2 separate regions of the Homo sapiens genome follow, and region 2 is linked to region 1. Evidence: fine-mapped expression QTL. A gene starts in region 1. The other region holds a variant in brackets. All regions are shown on one strand. Distances are between the middles of the regions.

Region 1 (11,129 bases):
AGAGGTGTTCACAAGCACAAAGAAGGTGTAGGGGGAGGCAAGTGCCAGGCACAAGCAGGGGCAGGTGAGGACTCTGGGTGACTGTGCTATAGGGCCCCAGGCTACGGTTAGCCCTGTAGGTTTCCCAAGGGCCTGGCCTAAGGCAGATCCTTGATCGATATACCTTGAGACCAGAAGGTGCTCCGAAATCACAACCGTACAATTAGGGGATCTAGGAACAATTCTTTGGAGATACCAATGCCTTTGGCTGGTGTTGCTGCATTTCTTTACTGGGGACTGATAGATGGAGAGGTGGAAAGATGAGCTGAGGCACATCTTTCAGAGCTACTGGGAGGCCATTTCTTCCTGGCTGTTAGGATTTGTTCGTGTTTGGGAGACCTTTAGAGCGTGGTTAAACCCATATGTTGGGATTTATGCTGCTTTTATGGTAGCAATACCCTATATTAAGATTTGAAGTAGACCCGGAAAGTTAGTGGCCGGTTAGCTCAGTTGGTTAGAGCGTGGTGCTAATAACGCCAAGGTCGCGGGTTCGAACCCCGTACGGGCCAGTGGGTGGCTTTTTTTTGTGTGTGTTTTGTTTTCTGACCCTCTGCTGTTATCCGGAAGTTTCTACCCGGAGCCAGTTGCCTTCTGGTAACAGAATTATATTGCACCTACTGCTTCCTATTCCCTGAATCACTAGCGCTCCCGAAGGCTTGGAGGGAGGAGTCTCTGGGCACCCGGGTGAAAGGAAGGTTCACGTGCAACCGCCGCGTCTTTTTTTCCCTGAAGCGCTTTCATGGAGGCAGATGTTTGTCAGTCAAGGGAAGTAAGAAAGGCATTGGATGAAAACGAAGCCCTAAGCCTCGTAGTCGTGGCCGAGTGGTTAAGGCGATGGACTAGAAATCCATTGGGGTCTCCCCGCGCAGGTTCGAATCCTGCCGACTACGTCATATTTTTTTCTTCAGCATACTGACCATATTTCTCTCCAGGATGGGATGATCCAGTCGGCACCCTCCAAACCTCTCATCTAGGAACTCTAGAATCGAGAATTTGATTTAGAGTCTATGATTTTGGTTTGAAATCTATGATTAACGTCTTTGGACATTGAAGGAAATCCGAGGAATGGACAAGTGATGCAAGAGCCAGTTGAGTTACCAAATTAGTTCTAGAAAGATCTGAAAAAGCTCGGTCCGGGTTCCTAGCTCTATATTCTTGTAGATGAATTTCAGGAACCTTTATGGCAGCTTCGGCGCCGTGGCTTAGTTGGTTAAAGCGCCTGTCTAGTAAACAGGAGATCCTGGGTTCGAATCCCAGCGGTGCCTTTATTCAATTGAAACAGCGTGATTTTGCGGCTAAATCCACATCCTTTCATGTATTGTTTTTATATCAGAACGCGTAAGAGTTTCTGTTCTGCACTCATAGCACCCACATTTCCTGCAGAGTCAAGCTGCCACTCCCATGAGATCGCCACTCTAAAAGGTGGTTCTCTAACTTAGGGGCAGAAATGTTGCATAGGCCTAAGGGTCCTTTGCTTAACTGATGCCACACCCCACTGGTGCAGGTGGACTGGGTCAGGCGGCCGCCCCACCCTCGATGGAAGGGGCTGCCCACCTTCCAGGCCTCTTTCTCCACCCTAGGACGTCCCCTAGAACCTGAGCCACTTTGTTTTGTTTGGCTCTTCATTATAGTTCTTTGGGTTTGGTGGCTCATAATGTTATATATATAGTATATAATATAAAAATATATATTTAAATATACAGTATTTAAAATTTGGCACAGCTTCCAGATGCGGTCCTCTAACTGGTCTTTCACTTGCAGTTACCTCCATCCCTCTCCACCAGCGGGATGTCAGGGTAAGGAGTAAGCAGGGATCCGGCTGGCCTGGCCTGGCCTGGCACCAGGTTTCGTGCAGCAGGGTGCAGAAGGGCTGAGGCCATGTGAACAGAGTCCAAGAAAGCATCATTCGGGAGTCGCTAGGGATCCTGGTGTGGAAGGGCAGGGCACTTTTCTGGAGCACTGAAGCTAGGCTGGTTAAGGAAGAAATAAATGCCAGAGATAAGGCAAGAAATAGGATCTGTGAGCTCTTGGCAGGACCTAAACCTCCTTGGAAGATAGGCAGAAAGCTCTCGACACCATTCCATGGCCCACGAACCAATGTAAGATGAGCAAATGGCTTGAAGGAATTGCTACCTCCAGGTCAAGCCAGGGATGCAGCACTGCCGAGACCACGTTTGTGCCAAGCACTGGGCTGGACCCTGTGCAGAACCAAATGAACAAGGCACGTTCCCCTTTCAGCACTAACGGCACTGTAAGAACAGGGAGAAGTGGAATCTAATCTGGCCTGAGGGTAGAGGGTGATCAGCTAAGTCTGAAACACCATGTAGAAACTTGCCATGTATGGCCGGGCGCGGTGGCTCACGCCTGTAATCCCAGCGCTTTGGGAGGCCAAGGTGGGCGGATCACGAGGTCAGGAGTTCCAGACCAGCAGCCTGGCCAACATAGTGAAACCTGGTAACATAGTGAAACCTCGTCTCTACTAAAAATGCAAAAAATTAGCCAGGCGTGGTGGCAGGCGCCTGCAGTCCTAGCTACTTGGGAGGCTGAGGCAAGAGAATCGCTTCAACCTTGGAGGGGGGAGGAGGTGTTGTCAGCCGAGATCGCGCCACTGCATCCCAGCCTGGGCAACAAGAGTGAAACTCCGTCTCAAAAAAATGAAATAAAATAAACGAATGATCAGCTGTTTGTTAGTTCTTGGTTATTAAAAGTGGGGTCTATGTACGCACTTTTCTGAGGAAAAAATAAAGTGTGGGGTATGTGGATGGGATTATGTGTGAACTCCCTGGATTGTATACATGTTTAGGAAGAGGGCCATAGCTTTTTTTTTTTTTTTTTTTTTTTGAGACGGAGGGAGTCTCATTCTGTCACCCAGGCTGGAGTGCAATGGCACAATATTGACTCACTGCAACCTCCGCTTCCCGGGTTCAAGCAATTCTCCTGCCTCAGTCTCCCGAGTAGCTGGGATTACAGGCGCCCGCCACCACGCCTGGCTAATTTTTGTATATTTAGTAGAGACGGGGTTTCACCATTTTGGTCAGGCTGGTCTTGAACTCCTGACCTTGTGATCCACCCACCTCAGCCTCCCAAAGTGCTGGGATTACAGGTGTGAGCCACTGTGCCCGGTGAAGAGGGACATAGCTTTCATAAGGGTCATAAAGGATTTAGGCCTCCCCTTCTGCAGCGTTTAAGTGCCTGAGGCCAGGGAAGAGGTGACTGGATTATTTTGCAGAGAAAGCTGGGGCCCAAGGGGAGGGAGACAGGAATTGGAAAAGGGTAGGAATGGGGGAGGAGATGCCAGATCAGCCCTGAGAACCTCTTTACCCATCTCAAAGACTTGGGACACTAATGGGAAAGGCTGGGCTAACTTCTGCTGCCCTTCCCCACTGTCTGTCCAGGGGAACCTGGGAAAGACAAATAGGAGCTGAATCCTTCACTGAAAGCCCCGTCATCGTATCTATGGGTTGGGCATTAGGAACGGCCTGGCCCCACAAATCACACAACTGGGGTGTAGAACAAAATGGTTCCACAGATGACACCAGGCTGGTCCAGGGCCGATGCAGGCCAGAACCCCGCTGGGAGGACTCCCCAGAACAGGCACTGAGCTGAGGAAAGGCAGGACACGTGGTCTGCTACCGACCCCACCAGATCTTGCTGGGACTCTGGGCAGCTCCGGAGTAAGAGCAGCATGGTGAGTGTTTAAGAGCGCAGAGGCTCACTGGGCAGTCCCGGGGACACTGCTAAGTCCCCAAACCGGGTCTACAGGCCTTCGACCACATTCATGCGGCCACGTGCCTCAGAGCCTTCGGGGGGTCTTAGGAGGCAGGCAGGAGGGTCTCCCTTCTAGGCCATTCTAGGAGGGGACTGGGGAGCAGAGGTTAGACTGTAGGGTAGGGGTAACCTGATCTTACAGTCCGGAAGCCATGAGACTAGTCGCCTGGCCTTGCGCCCCGCCCCACTGCAGGGTGGAAAGCCTGTCCCCCTCCAGTCACCCAGCTCAATAACGCCCTCTTCCGTGGGTCTTCTGGGCCCCAGAAATCGTTCCCTCTTTCCCTCGCTTGGGTACTGCCATGCGGTCTGGGGAACCCGTGGACTATCGATGGGTCTGGCCCAGGGTTTGCCCTGCCCGTTAGCCCAGGAGGATAGACAGACACGGGGCACTGGTGTTCCCCTAGTGATTTCTCCTGCCCGTCCCGAAAGCAAGCAATTCCACCGCTTCTCTTCAAAGCTCTGCAACGAAGAGCTAGGTCCAAGGACCGCAGGCGGAGGCAGGAAGTGTCAAGATCCCAGGTTACGGAATGGCACCAAGTCGGTAACCAAAGGAAGCAACAACCCGGGTGTTCAAGGCAGTCGTGCAAGGCGGCGCGGGGGCGAGGCCGAGGCCACTCCCTCCCACTTCCTTGACGCTATTTCCTGGGAGGAGCCGGAGCTCGCGGCCCGGAGCCAAGAGATTCCCAGCCCAGTGCTCCAAAATACTCGGCCTGGGGGAGGCTGGTCCGTGAGCGTGCGCCCGGACCGTTCCGCCATGCATAGTGGACCCAGCACTACAGCAAGCCTGGCACGACCTCTAAGGCGGTTCGCGGCAACGTCCGCACGTCGGCTCGTTGGTCTAGGGGTATGATTCTCGCTTCGGGTGCGAGAGGTCCCGGGTTCAAATCCCGGACGAGCCCTCCTTTACCTTTTACTGAGACAAGAGTGTCTTCAAGGAATAGGTTACCTGACCAGCGCTGCAGGAGGCTTGACTGTAAGTCATCAATGTACAGTAAGCTCTTTTGTGGCACCGCGGTAGCAGAAAGCATCTCAATCCCCAGACCCGCCTGGCATGTCAGGAAGAGACGAGGCACGCCCAGACTTGGGCAGGTCCCTCCCTTTCTGCTTCCTGACTTCCTTCCTGGTGTCTCAACTCGGCCACCACAGCCTGGTTTCGCTTTGATTGACACGCGTCAATCTATAGTTGTGGATGACAGTGTTCGGGAGAGCCCAGGAACTGTCAAAACTTGGTTCTCTGCAGTCCTGAAGGCACTCTGTCTCTTTCGGTCACTCCATCTGACGATTGGTGCCTGAAATACACCTACGGTTTCTGGTCAGCGTTTATCAGTGGTTGGAAGAACAGAACCCCTAGGAACCCTGCTGTCAGCACGCAGAGTGTAAAGTCTCAGATCAAGGATTCGGAGAAAGGTCTCTACAGGTCCCTCCTCGTTAGTATAGTGGTGAGTATCCCCGCCTGTCACGCGGGAGACCGGGGTTCGATTCCCCGACGGGGAGAGTACTAGCAGTTTTGAAACTTCTATCTTTTTGCTTTCATTAAATCCGTCCTGGTCCCTGGGATGGAGCTATAAAAAAGAGGGAAAGGAGGAGGGGAGGAGAGTTTGGCCTTCCTCTCCAGCTCGCATTCTAAGTTTCCATTTTACTTCAAGCAACTTAGAGTTCAAACGTGTACCTAAAGTGGCCATTATCTGCTCTGCTCAGTATGCTCATTAGCGCTCAGACTTGGCCTAGCTTGCTCCCTCCTTGACGGAAGTGCGCATTTCCAGTCTCTGCTTGAACCTGGGCAAGTAGCTTTGGCCCCCAGCCGTCCAGGGTGCAGAGCCCGGGCTTTTGTTTCCTTTCGCCTCCCTGCTTTTTGTGGATTCGCACTGCGATCCGGGAACAGTAGGCAACCCCGGGCCGAGATTCCGACGCGCTGCTCTCGCCTGGAGGGGCTTGCAGGGCGCATCCGTCAGGAGCGCGGTGGTCCAGCCGTGGTCGCGGGTGTAGCGGAAAGTGGGTCCTTTCGGAGCGGAAGTTTCCTCAGGAAAACCTCACGAAAACCCTCAACGATGCTGGGGCCCAGAAAACACGAAAAGGAAAAGGCGGGGGGGGGAAAAAACACCCAAAACGACTTGCGTTGGCCGGGAATCGAACCCGGGTCAACTGCTTGGAAGGCAGCTATGCTTACCACTATACCACCAACGCTCCGGTGCTAGCTCTCTTTCCTGGTTTTCATACCTCAGGTTGGTTGGGATGAGTCGGGTTGGACCCGTGCGGATCCAGGAAAACAGCGATCGAGGTAAAAGTAATGGCTGCCGTCGTCTGCCCAGCGCGCAATTGTGAGTGACCTTCACCGCTAGCGCGCGCCACCCACCCCACATGAACCTGTAGGGTTATGCCCAGTCTACAGACGAGGAAACCAAGATCCAGGGAAGCTGAGTCACCGGCAGAGCTGGGATTACGTCTAAGATTTGTCCAGGGGGCGAGAACTGCAGCGACACCATGATTTATCATCTCCAGAAAACAAAAAAAAAGGCCTAGACACATAAAAATGGCTTCTCTGTAGAGTGAGCTCAACGAGCTCAATGTGATTCCAGTTAAGGAATTGGGCCTTAAGCCAAATGCGCCTAAACGCAACTTGCCTCTCTATTATTTATCCAGAGGATGAATTTAATTCCTACGTACATGCGCCCACATCTCGTCAGCTGGTGCCTCAGAGAAATGCGCTGACAAATCTTAAAGGTGGGGCTTCATGACAAAAGTCCGCCCGTTATTGCTGCTCAACAGACCCATCAAGTCACGCTGTTGGACAGGCCTCGTGGCGCAACGGTAGCGCGTCTGACTCCAGATCAGAAGGTTGCGTGTTCAAATCACGTCGGGGTCAAACAAAACATTGTTTTCCCTAATCAAATAGACCTACGGTGACATTTTTCAGGATAGGAAAAAAAAAAAGCCTCCTCAGTAGAAGGATAGGAGGGGAATGAGACAAATATGAACGTTATTCAGAAGTTGGGTGCAGACTTTCAACATTATGTGATATATCCCTGTGGCAAAACTGCGCATGTATCCCTAAGGTCTATAAAAGTAAAAATAAATTTAAAAATAAAAAAATTCCCTGTTGTATGGAAATTGTTAAATAATTTTTTAAATTATTATTTTTTGTTTGTATTTTTTTTTCCCTTGAGACGGAGTTTCTCTCTTGTTGCCCAGGCTGGAATGCAATGGCACTATCGCGGCTCACCGCAACCTCCGCCCACGGGTTCAAAGGGATTCTCCTGCCTCAGCGTCCCGAGTAGCTGGGATTACAGGCATGCACCACCACGCCCGGATAATTTTGTATTTTAGTGGCGTGAGCCACTGTGCCCGGCCTTTTTAAATGTTTTTAATAATCTCTGCTGTTCTAGGTATGTTTACTTAACACTGAACACAAGGATATTAAATACAAATATTACCTTTCTCCAGACTTCCCAGCAGTCACTAGAAGCCCAGGACCACGTGCATTTTGGCTGCTTCCAGTATATTGAAAAACAAAACCGGTGGGATGGGATGGCTCACGCCTGTAATCCCAGCACTTAGGGAGGCCCAGGCGGGCAGATCACGAAGTCAAGAGATCAAGACCATCCTGGCCAACTTGGTGAAACCCCGTCTCTACTAAAAACTACAAAAATCAGCTGGGCGTGGTGGCGCATGCCTGTAGTCCCAGCTACTTGGGAGGCTGAGGCAGGAGAATCGCTTGAACCCCGGAGGCAGAGGTTGCAGTGAGCGGAGATTGGCACCACTACACTCCAGCCTGGCGACAGAGGGACACTCTCTCTCAAAAAAAAAAAAAAAAAAAGAAAGAAAGAAAAAGAAAAAGAAAGAAAGAAATCCAGGCCACCCACCCTATATGCCTTGTCTTTTCCAATGGGAAATTTATTCCCTTCACCTCTCTCTCCTCCACTAACAATACCTTTCTAAGTGTGACTGGCTTTGGTTGATGGGGAAGAATTTGGGCCATCTCACCACCATCCACACAGCAGACATTGCCCAGGTTAAAATCTGTGCTCCGCTTTCCTTCCCCTTTCTTGCCCCTGCCCACCTTCTGCCATAGCTGTCTCTGTGTCACTGTATCACTATGTACAAGACAAAGGCAGACAGTTGACCAGTCCTTGCAGAAATGGTGCTTGAAGAACTGCTGATGACCTGAGCAAGGTAACAGCATAGAAACTCTGGCGACCTAAGGCGGAGCTGGCTGTGAGGCTGGCTACCAAGCAGTCCCACCACCATTCTCACTGCCAGGGCAACCAGAAAACCTTGCCTGCATTAATTATTTCATAAGGAGATGCAAAATGATCATTTCCTAATTCTATCATTTTGTGTACATTTATTAGCTGAAACACACACACAGATATATTCGTAACAAAATAAAGAAGAAATACAGCCAGGTGTGGTGGCTCACGCCCGTAATCCCAGCACTTTGGGATGCCGAGGTGGGCAGATCACCTGAGGTCAGGAGTTTGAGACCAGCCTGGCCAACATGGTGAAACCCCGTCTCTACTCAAAATACAAAAAAAATTAACCAGGCATGGTGGCACATGCCTGTAATCCTAGCTACTTAGGAGGCTAAGGCAGGAGAATCACTTGAGCTTGGGAGGCGGAGGTTGCAGTGAGCTGAGATCATGCCATTACACTCCAACCTGGGCGACAGATTGACGCTCCGTCTCAAAAAAAAAAAAAAAAAGGAAATACACTTACAGTCCTTGTTTCTCTAACTGGCCACGTAGTGGTAGCTGATAACTAGCTGCTGCTGCTGCTGCTGCTTCTTTTTTTTTTTTTTTTTTCTTGAGATGGAGTCTCGCTCTGTCACTCAGGTTGGAGTGCAGTAGAGTGCAGGTGATCCACCCATCTCGGCCTCCCAAAGTGCTGGGATTACAGGCGTGACCCACTGTGCACAGCCTTTTTTTTATATTTTTAGTAGAGACGGGGTTTCATCATGTTGGCCAGGCTGGTCTCGAACTCCTGACCTCAGGTGATCCTCCCGCCTCAGCCCCCTAAAATGCTGGGAATAAAGGTATGAGCCACCGCACCTGGCCTAACTAGCTTCTTCTATTACCCATTTTGTCTTCCCATTGTCTTCAACAAGCCCCTCAACTGGTCCTGGTTATTTCCCTCGTAGGGAGACCCAAACCTTGTTCCTGAAGGGTCTAAGCCACTAGTAGTCCTATCTGAACTGAGTGCTTCCGCTTGTAGTTTTCCACTGACCTTAGAATCTGTATTAGTCTGCTCAGGCTACCATAACAAAATGCCGTAGACTGCGTGGCTTAAACAACAGATATTTATTTTCTCACTGTTCTGGAGGCTCAAAGTCCAAGATCAAGATGTTATCAGGGTTGGTGTCTGCTGAGGCCTCTCTTGCCGGCTTCTACATGCCGCCTTCTTGCAGTGTCCTCACATGGCCTTTCCTCTGTGCCGACAGGGAAAGAGAGAACTCTGGAGTCTCTCCCTCTTCTCCTAAGGATGCCAGCCCTGTAGGATTAGGATTCCACTCAAATGACCTCATTTAACCTTAACTACCTCCCTAAAGCTGTGTCTAGAAATACATTTACATTGGGTGTTAAAGCTTTATCATATGGATTTTGGAGAAACACAATTTCATCCATAACAACCACAGAAGAAAATGGTAGAGAAACAATATACCTAGACCTAATTCTTGAAAATATTTTTTTTTTGAGACGGAGTCTCTGTCTGTCGCCTAGGCTGGAGTGCAGTGGCGTGATCTCGGCTCACTGCAAGCTCCGCCTCCTGGGTTCACGCCATTCTCCTGCCTCAGCCTCCCTAGTAGCTGGGACTACAGGCACCCGCTATCACGCCCGGCTAATTTTTTTTTTGTATTTTTAGTAGAGACGGGGTTTCACCGTCTTAGCCAGGATGGTCTCGATCTCCTGACCTCGTGATCCACCCACCTCGGCCTCCCAAAGTGCTGGGATTTCAGGCATGAGCCACAGCGCCCGGCCTACTTCTTGAAATTTTACTGACCGGGCCTGGTGGCTCATGCCTGTAATCCTAGCACTTTGGGAGGCCGAGACGGGTGGATCACGAGGTCAGGAGATCGAGACCATTCTGGCTAACACGGTGAAACCTCGTCTCTACTAAAAATACAAAAAAAAAAAAAAAAAATAGCCAGGCGTGGTGGCGGGTGCCTGTAGTCCCAGCTACTAGGGAGGCTGAGGCAGAAGAATGGCGTGAACCCGGGAGGCGGAGCTTGCAGTGAGCTAAGATCGCGCCACCGCACTCCACCCTGGGGGACAGAGCGACACTCCGTCTCAAAAAAAAAAAAAAGAAATTTTACACTGGAACTCCACCTGTATGCCTTTTAGTTCATTTAAAAAAACATCATAAACAAATATAGCAAAATGTGTTAAGATTTGACTAATTTAATAGCAGTCACACAAGTGCCTTTAAAGTGTATTCCTGGATGGGTGTGGCGGCTCACGCCTGTAATCCCAGCACTTTGGAAGGCCAAGGTGGGTGGATCACCTGAGGTCAGGAGTTCGAGACCAGCCTGGTGAAAATGAGGAAACCCCTGTCTGTACTAAAAATACAAAAATTAGCTAGGCATGGTGGCCCACGCCTGTAATCCTGGGAGGCAGAGGTTGCAGTGAACCAAGATCACCCCATTGCACTCCAGCCTGGGCGACAAGAGCAACACTGTGTCTCAAAAAAAAAAAAAAAAAAAATTAGCCAGAATGGTGGCGGGCGCCTGTAATCCCAGCTACTTGGGAAGCTGAGGCAAGAGAATCGCTTGAACCGGGGAGGCAGAGGTTGCAGTGAACTGAGATTGCACTGCTGCACTCCAGCCTGGGCAACAAGAGTGAAACTCCATTTCAAAATAATAATAATAAGGCCGGGCGTGGTGGCTCATGCCTGTAATCCCAGCTCTCATGGAGGCAGAGGTGGGAGGATAGCTTGAGCCCAGGAGTTCGAGACCTGCTTGGGCAATATAGCGAGACCCTGTTCTCCACAAAAAGGAAGAAAAAAAAGACAAAATAATAATAATAATAAATAAATAAAAAAGAGCCGGGAGCGGTGGCTTCAGGCCTGTAATCCCAGCACTTTGGGAGGCTGCAGCAGGCGGATCACGAGGTCAGGAGTTCGAGAACAGCCTGACCAACATGGTGAAACCCCATCTCTACTAAAAATACAAAAATTAGCTGGGCATGGTGGCACACGCCTGTAGTCCCACCTACTTGGGAAGCTGAGGCAGGAGAATCACTTGAACGCAGGAGGCAGAGGTTGTGGTGAGCTGAGATCATCATGCCACTGCATTCCAGTCTGGGAAACAGAGCAAGACTCCATCTCAAAAA
Region 2 (11,129 bases), 29 kb after region 1:
ATCTCGAACTCCTGACCTCAGGTGATCCCCCGACCTTGGCCTCCCAAAGTGCAGGGATTACAGGCGGGAGCAACCACGCCTGGCCTAAAATAGTATTCTTAATTCAGTGCCCACCCAATCAAAAAAGTTGTAACTTCCCCATCTCAGTCAATAGCACTATCATTTAGCACCCAGTTACTTGGGTCAAAAACCTAGAAATCATTCCTGGTTTCTCTCTTTTTTCTTCCTCACCTCCCCAGATCTTCCAACTCTTCCTATTGCCAACCAAATCCATGGAGAGGCCCACCTTTATTACACACACACCCCATCACTCTCATGCTGGTTCAAGTCACCATCCTTTCTGGCTTGGGTGATAACAACCTCCTAACTATTCTCTCTGCTTCTTCTGTTCCTGCCTCCTAGAGTCCATTCCCCCAACAGTCAAAGTCAGAGCATATCATTCCTCTGTTCAAAACCCTCCTTTGGTTTTTCGGTGTATTTACAATAAAATCAAAACTCCTTATCATGGCTGGCAAGGTCCTATCTTCAGGGGTTATCAACAATGGCTGCACATTAGAAACATCTGAAGGACTTAAAAAGAAAATAGGAGACCGGGCGCGGTGGCTTACGCCTGTAATCCCAGCACTTTGGGAGGCTGAGGCGGGCGGATCACGAGGTCAGGAGATCAAGACCATCCTGGCTAACACGGTGAAACCCTGTCTCTACCAAAAATACAAAAAAAAATTACCTGGGCGTGGTGGTGGGTGCCTGTAGTCCCAGCTACTCAGGAGGCTGGGGCAGGAGAGTGGCATGAACCCAGGAGGCGGAGCTTGCAGTGAGCTGAGATCGTGCCACTGCACTCTAGCCTGGGCGACAGAGCGAGATTCCGTCTCAAAAAAAAAAAAACCAAAAAACAAAAAACTCCCAGGCCTTGCCCTAACAAATTCAGATTTCATTGATCTGGGTTGAGGCTGGAGCATCCATGTCGCTTTTAACTCCCCAGGTGGTTCTGAGGGGTTCAGAAGCCCTTCCCTAAGAGTTCTGGTCCTTCCCCACCAATGGATGCTCCTCTGTAACTGCTCTTCCACTTCCATCACTAAAGCTCTGACCTCGGCTGGGCGCGGCAGCTCATGCCTGTCATCCCAGCACTTTGGGAGGCCGAGGCGGGTGGATCACCTGAGGTCTGGGGTTCAAGACCAGCCTGGCCAACATGGTGAAATCCCATCTGTACTAAAAATACAAAAAAAAAAAAAAAAAAAAAAAATTAGCCGGGCGTGGTGGCGGGTGCATGTAATCCCAGCTACTTGGGAGAATGAAGCAGAAGAATCTCTTGAACCCCGGGAGTGGAGGTTGCAGTGAAGCAAGATTGGGCCATTGCACTCCAGCCTGGGCAACAAGAGGGAAACTCCATCTCAAAAAAAAAAAAGAAAAGAAAACAAAGACATCATCTCCTCACACGTGAAAATTCCAAGTATCCAGAGCAAGAGCCATCCCCAAATGTAATGTAAAACCATGGCATAATTCTACATGCCACATAAAACCTGCATTCCACCCCCATCCCACTCAACAAGCCCTACAGACAATACAAGGGCTGATGCCCTGGGGTATGGGGAGAAAACTGTCCTAGTTGACATTCTTCTAAATGCTGAGCATAGCTGACTGGGGCATTTGTTCATTTTTGGGACTTGATGATCACCTTACCTTCCCACTGAATGGATGATGCCAAAAAAAGAAAGCAGAAAAGATATCCAGCCTTGCTTGTTCCCCTGATAGGTCGGCAGATAACTTCTCTCTACTTCTGTGAAGTAATGTGGGCACTGGCAACATTGAGGGTGGGTAATCTGACCCCCACCCCTACTGTGGCCTATGGAGGGGTGAGACCTGTGGATGATCGAGCTTTCACTTTGAGTCAGCATGTCTCACTTTGAATTCCTTCACCATTGCTTATTAGCCATGTGACCTTGGCCAAGTTATTTTTGTATTTTTGTGAGTCTTTTTTTTTGAGACAGACTCTGTCACCCAGGCTGGAGTGTGGTGGCGCTGTCTCAGCTCACTGCAACCTCCGCCTCCTGGGTTGAAGCGATTCTAATAGAGACAGGGTTTCACCATGTTATCCAGACCAGCCTTGAACTCCTGACCTCAAGTGATCCACCTGCCTCGGCCTCCCAAAGTGCTGGGATTACAGGCGTGAGCCACGGCACCCAGCCAGCCACTGCGCCTGGCCTTTTGTGAGTCTTTAAGATGGAAATAACAGTCATTTCTTACGTATAACATGGGCTGTTCCCAATTGCATTAATATACATAGACATCTTGTTTTGTTTTGTTTTGTTTCGTTTGTTTGTTTTGAGATGGAGTCTCACTCTTGTTGCCCAGGCTGGAGTGCAATGGCATGATCTCCGTTCACTGCAACCTCCACCTCCCAGGTTCAAGTGATTCTCCTGCCTTAGCCTCCCGAGTAGCTGGGATTACAGGCATGCGCCACCACACCCAGCTAATTTTTATATTTTTAGTAGAGACAGGGTTTCACCATGTTGGCCAGAATGGTCTCTAACTCCTCACCTCAGGTGATCCACCGGCCTCGGCTTCCCAAAGTGTTGGGATTACAGATGTGAGCCACCGTGCCTGGCCCTTACATAGAAATTTTTACTTTCTAAAAATAATATTTTAAAATGCTGTTGGGGGCTGGGCGCAGTGGCTCACGCCTGTAATCCCAGCACTTTGGGAGGCTGAGGCGGGCCAGGTGGGGCGAGGTGGATCACGAGGTCAGGAGATCGAGACCATCCTGGCTAACACGGTGAAACCCCGTTTCTTCTAAAAATACAAATAATTAGCCGGGCATGGTGGCGGGCGCCTGTAGTCCCAGCTACTGGGGAGGCTGAGGCAGGAGAATGGCATGAACCCGGGAGGCAGAGCTTGCAGTGAGCCGAGATCATGCCACTGCACTCCAGCCTGGGCGACAGAGTGAGACTTCGTCTCAAAATAAATAAATAAATAAAACAAAATAAAATAAAATGCTGTTGGAGGCCAGGCACTGTGGCTGATGCCTGTAATGCTAGCACTTTGGGCAGATCATCTTAGGTCAGGAGTTTGAGACCAGCCTGGCCAACAAGGTGAAACCCTGTCTCTACTAAAGATAAAAAAATTAGCCGGGTGTGGTGGCATATGCCTGTAGTCCCAGATACTCAGGAGGCTGAGGCAGAGAATCGCTTGAACCCGGGAGGCGGAGGTTGCAGTGAGCTGAGATGGTGCCACTGCACTCCAGCCCGGGCAACAGAGCAAGACTGTGTCTCAAAAAACAACAACAATACAACACACAAAAAAAAGACAATACATAAGTGAATGAACATAGCTGTGTTCCAATAAAAATTTATAGACTCTGAATTTTTTTTTTTTTTTTTTTTTTGGAGACAGCGTTTCATTCTGTTGCCCAGGCTGGAGTGCAGTGGTGTGATCTTAGCTCACTTCAACCTCTGCCTCCTGGGTTCAAGCAATTCTCGTGCTTCAGCTTCCCGAGTAGCTGGGACTATGGGCACACATCACCATGCCCAGCTATTTTTTTTTTTTTTTTTGAGATGAAATGTTCTGTCGCCCGGGCTGGAGTGCAATGGAGCGACCTTGGCTCACTTCAACCTCTGCCTCCTGGGTTCAAGCAATTCTCGTGCTTCAGCTTCCCGAGTAGCTGGGACTATGGGCACACATCACCATGCCCAGCTATTTTTTTTTTTTTTTGAGATGAAATGTTCTGTCACCCAGGCTGGAGTGCAATGGAGCGACCTTGGCTCACTGCAACCTCTGCCTCCCTGGTTCAAGCGATTCTCCTGCCTCAGCCTCCCGAGTAGCTGGGATTACAGGCACCCGCCAATATGCGCGTCTAATTTTTGTATTTTTAGTAGAGACGGGGTTTCACCATGTTAGTCAGGCTGGTCTGGCACTGTTAACCTCAGGTGATCTGCGCACCTCGTCCTCCCAAAGTGCTGGGATTACATGTGTGAGCCACCACGCCCGGCTTCCCAGCTAATTTTTGTACTTTTTGTAGAGACAGGGCTTTTGCCATGTTGGCCAGGCTGATCTTGAACTCCTGGCCTCAAGTGATCCAACCGCCTCGGTTTCCCAAAGTGCTAGGATTATAGGCGTGAGCCACTGTGCCCAGCCAACTTTCATATTCTCTAGATTATTTTCAACAGCTGGGCAGGGTAGCTCACGCCTTTAATCTCAGCACTGAGTCTGAGGCAGATGGATCACCTGATCTCAGGAGTTCAAGATCAGCCTGACCAATATGGTGAAACCCCCATCTCTACTAAAAATACAAAATTAGCCAGACGTAGTGGCACATGCCTGTAATTCCAGCTACTTGGGAGGCTGAGGCAGGAGAATTGTTTGAACCTGGGAGGCAGAGGTTGTAGTGAGCTGAGATTGCGCCACTGCATTCCAGCCTGGGCAACAAGAGCGAAACTCTGTCTCAAACAAACAAATAAAAACATAAAAGCATTCTTAGCTCATGGCCGTATAACAACAGGTGTTGAGCTGGATTTGGCCCTTGGGCTATACTTTGCTGAACCCCACTGTAGTGGACACTGTGGTAGCCTCCTGACAGCCCCTCCTGCCTTCCCATTATGTCGCAACTGTTTGAATTTGGAAGGAACTGACCCATCCCTAGCTCCAGGAGGAGCATAACTCTTAACCTAATCAGTTAATTCTTTTTTTGAAATAGGGTCTGGCTCTGTTGCCCAGACTGGAGTGCAATAGTCCGATGATAGCTCACTGCAGATTCAACCTTCTGGGTTCAAGCAATCCTCCCGCATCAGCCTCTACAGTAGCTGGGACTCCAGGTGTGCAACACCATGTCTGGCTAATTTTTTTTTTTTTTTTTTTTTTTTTTTTTGAGACGGAGTCTCGCTCTGTTGCCAGGCTGGAGTGCAGTGGCACAATCTCGGCTCACTGCAACCTCCGCCTCCCGGGTTCAAGTGATTCTCCTGCCTCGGCCTCCAGATTAGCTGGGATTACAGGTGCGCGCCACCACACCGGGCTAATGTTTTTGTATTTTTAGTAAAGGCGGGGTTTCCCCATGTTGGCCAGGATGGTCTCGATCTCCTGACCTCGTGATCCGCCCACCTCGGCCTCCCAAAGTGTTGAGATTACAGGCGTGAGCCACCGCGCCCTGCTGATAATTTACATTTTTAAAGGATCATTCTGGTTCTCTATTGAAAATAGACTGTAGAGAGAGGTGAGGGTAGAAGAAGTGAGACCATTCGGGAAGCAACTTCATTTATCCAGGCCAAAAATGATGGTGGTTTGGACCAGGGCAGAAACAATGGTAAGGATGAGAAGTGGTCAGATTCTGGATGTATTTTCGAGCAGAACCAACAAGATTTCCTAAAGGATTGGCCATGGATTATGACAGAAAGAGGAGTCAAGTACAACTCCAGGGTTTTTGGCCTTGGCCACTGGGAAGATGGAGTTGCCACTTACTGAGACAGAAGTCACCGTAGGAAGAAACAAGGTTTTGCGGGGGAGGTGGTGCGATAGGGGTGGGGCAAGGAACCAAATCACAGGAAGGATAAAGGTGGGGCTATCTTCAGGCTGGCACAGGAATTCAAACGCTCTCAGAACTCATGCCTCTTCATCTTTTGTCTCTGGTTCTCTTCCTTATCAGCCTCATTCTTTCCTTCTACAGACAGCGATCTCCTGGACATGAAAGATGGACAAGCTGATACCCAGCTTGAGCTCTCAAGAGAACAGAAAGGCGTCTCACACTCTCCACAAAGCTAGAAACAAACAACACTGTGGAGGATTTTTACTGGTCATACATTGGGTCATGTGCCCTTCCCTGAGCCAATCTGCAGTCAGAAGGATGAAGTACTCTAATTGGCCAGTTTTGGGTCACGTGCCTGTTCCTGGCTGTCATTGCACCAACACATCAGGGAATGGGGAGTTGAGGAGTGAGGAGCTTCCCCTACACAGAGAGACGGTGGGTAGCCCATTTGTCCGCTAAAACCTTCAAGATACATCTAGAATGCATCCATCCACATCGTGCTAGGCTGAGCTACTATCACCTGGTACTTGGAACCGCCTCCTCACTGGTCTACCGTCTCCCTTGCAAACATTTTCTACAACAGCCAGTAATCCCTAAACATGAATCCCATCACATCACTCTCTTCCTGTGCTCAGCTTCCCATTCTCAAGGGAAGTCCTCCCATCTTCTAAAGAATATCTACCTACCCAGCCCAATTATATATGAGCTTTTTAGGTTTTTTTTTTTAGAGCAAAGGAATGACAGGTTTTGTCAAGCTGCAGGTGACTATAAGATACAGACAGCTGACAATTGTGGACTCCTCAGGCGTGGTGAAAGATTGAGCTACTATCATTAGGGTTGGCTGGCTAGGACCCCGGCAGGCACCTGGGGATAGTAGTGCTGGGAAGTTCTGGGGAGTTGCACTTCTGAATGCTGGCATGACACTGCCTCAAGACATCTCTCTATCCAAATGGAAAAAACAACCACATCCTTTGTCAGCTAAGGAGAGTTAGCAAACTGTTTTTATTAAATACTGATGTCTGGCCGGGCACGGTGGCTCACGCCTGTCATGCTAGCACTTTGGGAGGCCGAGGCGGGTGGATCACTTGAGGCCAGTAGTTCAAGACCAGCCTGGCCAACATGGTGAAACCCCATCTCTACTAAAAATACAAAATTAGCCGGGCGTGGTGGCGGGCGCTTGTAATCCCAGCTACCCGGGAGACTGAGTTAGGAGAATCGCGTGAACCCAGGAGGCGGAGGTTGCAGTGAGCCGAGATCGCGCCACTGCACTCCAGCCTGGGTGACGGAGTGGGACTCTGTCTCTAAATACATA[A/CATAA]ATAAATAAATAAATAAATAAATAAATAAATAAATAAAAATACTGATGTCTCCAAGCTTTGGCTATGTGTTGCAATGTACAACCTTTCCAATGTCGCTGCACCATTGCATTTAGAGGAAATCTCCATTCCCTAACAGGAACTACAAGGCCCCCTGCATGACGTGGCCCCTGCTGCCTGTTCAGCTCCTTGGCTCGAAATCCTTCCCCTTATCTTGCTGATTTTGTTTTAGTCCCAATGTCTCCTGCCCCCTCACCTCAGTTTCTTGAATACGTCAAGACTTCTTTGTCTCTGAGAGGTAGCTCAAGTTTTCTTCTCTCTGCCTGGGGGGTGGCTGCGTCTTTTTGGTTCTTTTTAGTTAAAAGTCTCACCAAAGAGGTATTTTCCTGACCCCTTACCTAAACTAGTGCCTGCTCAGTTATATTCTCAATCATAACACTTTATTTCCTGTATAGCACATATCAAAATTTGTGATCATTTCATTTGTTGAATATTTTACCTCGTGGCAAAATCACACGCCATCCTCCAAGGGGCGAGACCCCTCAGTGTGAAAGGGGCAAGAGACACAGAACAAGAGTGACAAACGCATAGGAAAGCCCAGAGGCCGCTGCCTTGACCACAGTGGGTCGCTCTGAGCAGTTCAGTGGTTAGGTCTCTTAACCAAGAAAGATAGAGCAAACCATTCATGCTCATGCTGGACTTCTGGTTTCCTTCTTTTTAGTCAACTAGGTTCAACCCTGATGGTCCAAGAAGGATATGCCATTTTCATCCTAAGAACCTCTCTAGGAACCCCAAGTGGGCTCCCCACTTGGTATTTTTGCTAAGCAATCACTGTTGGGGGGGGTACAATTACAGGCAGAAAGGATCTGAGCCCCACCCCTCGGGACTCAGGAATTTGAGGACCTTGGTCTTTAAGATCTGCCCCATCAGCTTTCAGAAAGGGCGGGGCGACGGGAGCAGCTGTCACCTCCTTCTCTCCACCCTGCCGGCGTTCACGTGTGTTCCGCTGTGCAGTAACAGCTCTTCTTCCGGGACTTCCTGGTCGCCGCGACCAATCAAAATGCTTTTCCTGTCCTTACCATTGTCAGCCGCTGCCAATCGGCTCGCCTCTACCAACGCCCCTTAAAGGCGCAGCCACTGCCTCCGGAGCCGGGGCGAACCAATTCCTCCGTTGCGGCCCCCACCTGCAGTATGGAGTCGTCTCGGGGGCGGCCCGGGCCCGAGACGGACCTTCTGGCTGTAGCGGAACATCAGGCCCTAGTCTTTGGCGGCGGGCCGGGCCGAACGTCCTCTGAGCCGCCCGCAGGCCTCCGGGTGTCCGGGGAGGAAGAGACCGAGAACGTTGGGGGCGCGAACCGCCACCCCAGGACGTCCCCGAAGACGTCAAGCTGCGGCGTCGTCCACCGGCCGGAACGGGAGGCTCTGGAGAACGAGCCCGGCCCTCAAGGGACGCTGTCTGGGGCCGGGAGCCGCAGGGGGGCGCCGGGTGCAGAGCACGAACCTTCCCTGTCCTCCCGGCACAAGAACCCGGCGCCGCCCGAGGGCAAGCCCTCCTCCGGGAGGGACTGCCGTCGAGGGGGACCAGGCGGCGGGATGGATGTTGAGCAGCAGGAGGAGGAAGACAACGACGAGGAGGCGGCCGCGGGCAGCAGAGCCGGCCGCTCGTTCTCCAGCCGTCTTCAGGACAGCCGCAGCCTGGACGGGCTGAGCGAGGCGTGCGGTGGCGCCGGGTCCTCAGGGAGTGCCGAGTCCGGCGCGGGCGGCGGACGCCGCGCCACCATCTCCAGTCCCCTGGAGCTCGAAGGCACAGTGAGCCGCCACGGCGACCTTACCCACTTTGTCGCCAACAACCTGCAACTCAAGATCCGTCTGAGCGGCGCGCCTCCACCCCCGCCTTCTGCCCCTGCGCGGCCCTGCCCAGCGCCTGCACCCACACCCACACCGGCCATTCCCCCAATCGACCCCGAGGTGCTGCGGGATCTGGAGCGGTTGAGTCGGGAGCTGGGAGGCCGGGTGGACCGTCTGCTTCGCGGTCTGGGTGGCGCGGTGCAGGAGCTGACGGCGCTGAGCGTGGGTTGCATCCAGACCTACCGCGATGCTGTGGACTCCTTAGGTGAAGCCGTGGACATGAGCATCAAGGGCATGTACACCCTGCTGGCGCGCTGCGAGGAGCTGGAGCGGGCTCTGCAGCCGGTTCAGGGGCTGGCGCGCCAAGTCCGGGATATCCGACGTACTCTGGAGGTGTTGGAGGCCCTGTGCAAGTGACCAGGAGGACAGGAGAGGCCGGTCCTGGCCAGGGCAGGGCCCAGCAGGACCCTAAGGACTCTTCAGGGAGTCCTGGTGGGAAGTGCCCACTGAGGGGAGGCCTGTGTGTTGGAGGCTCTTCCAGATGCGTTCAGCTGGCCCGTGCCCACTCGCTGGGCCTTAGGCTGGTGTATGTGGGGAAGTTCTAACGGCTCTCCTGGTGGGAAGGGATGTTGCTCTGCTTGTATTCAGTTGGCCATCTGTAGCTACCCTGTTCTTCCCAACTCTCCTCCCTAGCTAGAGCACCAGCCCTGGGAACACGGGGCTTTAGGTCTGCTTGAAGGTGAGGACGTGACTCCCACATGTAATCAGGAGAAAGGGACAGAGGAAGCCCCAGCCCCCACTGTGGCTATCCTGACTCCAGTGGCCACATCTCAGGTGCCAGGGGCTGTGGGAGCTTGTGCCGTCCTTGGCCAAACACCCCGCAGGCAAAGATGCACCCCTGCTGATGGAGAGCCTTCTGCTTCTGCCCTCTGGCCCTCTACCATACCACTTCCCCAGCCAGAACCGGCGTGCAGCTAGGAGGAATGGGTTGCACGGCGGAGGGGGTGAGGTGGGAGGCGTCTCACTGCTCTCAGGGTTCAGGTAGAATGTTGCTGGTTTTGAAGCTCACCTGTTGTGGAGTGTTCTAATCAGTTTTGGCTTTCTGAGTTTTTGTGGAATTAAAGTGCTGCTGCTGCGAAGGCTGAGGCTGAGTCTGTGTGGGGTTGCAGTGATTAATAAGCCAAAGGAATGGGAATGAGGGTCGGTGTTGTTCACGCAGCTCCCTTGGGGCTGGTGCTGGGAGTGGGGTGGGGGTGGAGATGTCTCAGGCTCCGTGGGGAAAGATATGGTTCTTGCTCTTAAGCATCTGGTCTGAGGGGAAATGTGAGGACACAGATAATCACTCACAGGGGCCCAGAGATCCGGTAACCACAGAAACGTAAAAAAGATGCTCTAGAAGAGAAGGGGAAGAAATTGTCTTCTCAGGTCCTCATGAATAGGCAGGGGCTGGGTGGATTGGACGGACATCTTACCTCTGGGGGAAGACTGGGAACACTTGTCAGCTCTATTCCTGACCATTTCCCACACTCTGCAGATCAGTGCCACGTGGTTTGAGACAAATTTGTCCCAAAGCCTTTTGTTTACAGTTCACACAGTAAGTTCAGGAGCCATATATTGTGGCCATAAGATGTAGAAGCAAAGATCACGAAACAACCCCGGTTTCTCTCAATCCCTTCCTCTCAAGACACGCCCACTTTAGAATGCGCTCCAATACGCTCCCTGTTCTGGGATTGGAAATGTGGCGCTGTTTTTCCCCAGAGACGTTACTTGGCTCTAAAACGGAGTGCAGTAATCGTACTTTCGAAAAGTTTCAATCCTGGCCCGTACGGGGATCGAACCCGCGACCTTGGCGTTATTAGCACCACGCTCTAACCAACTGAGCTAACCGGCCAGTTGCTACGAAAAGCTTGAAATAAATCTATTTAGTTACAATACTGTTCAGTTCTCTCGGGAAAAACCTTCAGTTGTGGGACTGCTTTATGAGAAATGAAAACAGAACACAAACACTGACTAACTGAGCACCTAGACGAGTAACAGACAGTACTGGCAAGTACAGATGATGCGACTGGTGTAACTGCAGGTCGAGGCGCAAGTACCATGTGCACGAAGAGCAAAAACCCAACAGCGTGTGGCAGATGCACCGGGAGAGGATAGATGGGTACGTGAGTAAACCATGTAGGATGGAAGTTATGAGTTTCTGCAACTGTCCTCACAATGTTTAATGTTGGCAAAAGCGTGGGGGAAACACGGAGGCACCGCTGGGATTCGAACCCAGGATCTCCTGTTTACTAGACAGGCGCTTTAACCAACTAAGCCACGGCGCCGCCGGAAAGACGCTTAGGATCTTGTTTCCTTGGCCAGGTCAGCTGAATTGCAGAGAATGAATACAAAGATGTCACAAAAAGTCGGCTGCATACGAAAATGAGGAAAGGATGGATGCAGCTGGGAAAGACACGAAA

Alleles and levels. Positions count from the first base shown, and alleles are read on the strand shown. Sizes are in standard deviations (SD) of each study's normalised expression.
As copies of CATAA replace A in region 2, the expression in NK cells of the gene that starts at base 3,496 in region 1 goes down (large effect, 0.88 SD a copy in Gilchrist 2021).

Evidence for each region. PIP is the estimated chance that this variant, and not a neighbour inherited with it, causes the effect.
Region 2: its variant is fine-mapped to the expression of LINC00324 in NK cells (Gilchrist 2021, PIP 0.95).

What each region holds. Positions count from the first base shown.
Region 1 is chr17:8,216,410-8,227,538 of GRCh38, reverse strand. It overlaps LINC00324 (long intergenic non-protein coding RNA 324), which reads left to right and starts at 3,496. Exons shown (of 3, transcript NR_026951.1): 1 at 3,496-3,727; 2 at 4,265-5,246; 3 at 6,030-6,909. It overlaps CTC1 (CST telomere replication complex component 1), which reads left to right. Exons shown (of 23, transcript NM_025099.6): 23 at 1-2,724. It overlaps TRW-CCA1-1 (tRNA-Trp (anticodon CCA) 1-1), which reads left to right and starts at 6,599; the gene lies at 6,599-6,670. TRG-TCC3-1 (tRNA-Gly (anticodon TCC) 3-1) reads right to left here and starts at 5,991; the gene lies at 5,920-5,991. It also overlaps TRD-GTC2-11, TRP-CGG1-3, TRT-AGT1-2, TRS-AGA2-6 and TRI-AAT4-1. RefSeq lists enhancers at 3,713-3,952, 4,203-4,332, 3,879-4,620, 4,943-5,142, 5,523-5,662 and 2 more and silencers at 4,683-4,732, 5,193-5,262.
Region 2 is chr17:8,187,025-8,198,153 of GRCh38, reverse strand. It overlaps BORCS6 (BLOC-1 related complex subunit 6), which reads left to right and starts at 7,974. Exons shown (of 1, transcript NM_017622.3): 1 at 7,974-9,809. The coding sequence starts at 8,014. The coding sequence ends at 9,087. LOC124903913 (a long non-coding RNA gene) reads left to right here. Exons shown (of 2, transcript XR_007065604.1): 2 at 5,654-6,879. It overlaps TRT-AGT1-1 (tRNA-Thr (anticodon AGT) 1-1), which reads right to left and starts at 10,994; the gene lies at 10,921-10,994. It overlaps TRI-AAT5-5 (tRNA-Ile (anticodon AAT) 5-5), which reads right to left and starts at 10,561; the gene lies at 10,488-10,561. RefSeq lists enhancers at 1,818-2,127, 5,598-5,697, 7,515-8,160, 7,903-8,182, 8,161-8,807 and 1 more and silencers at 8,293-8,342, 8,543-8,602, 8,673-8,722, 10,856-10,965. The variant A/CATAA (reference allele first, on the strand shown) is at 6,825.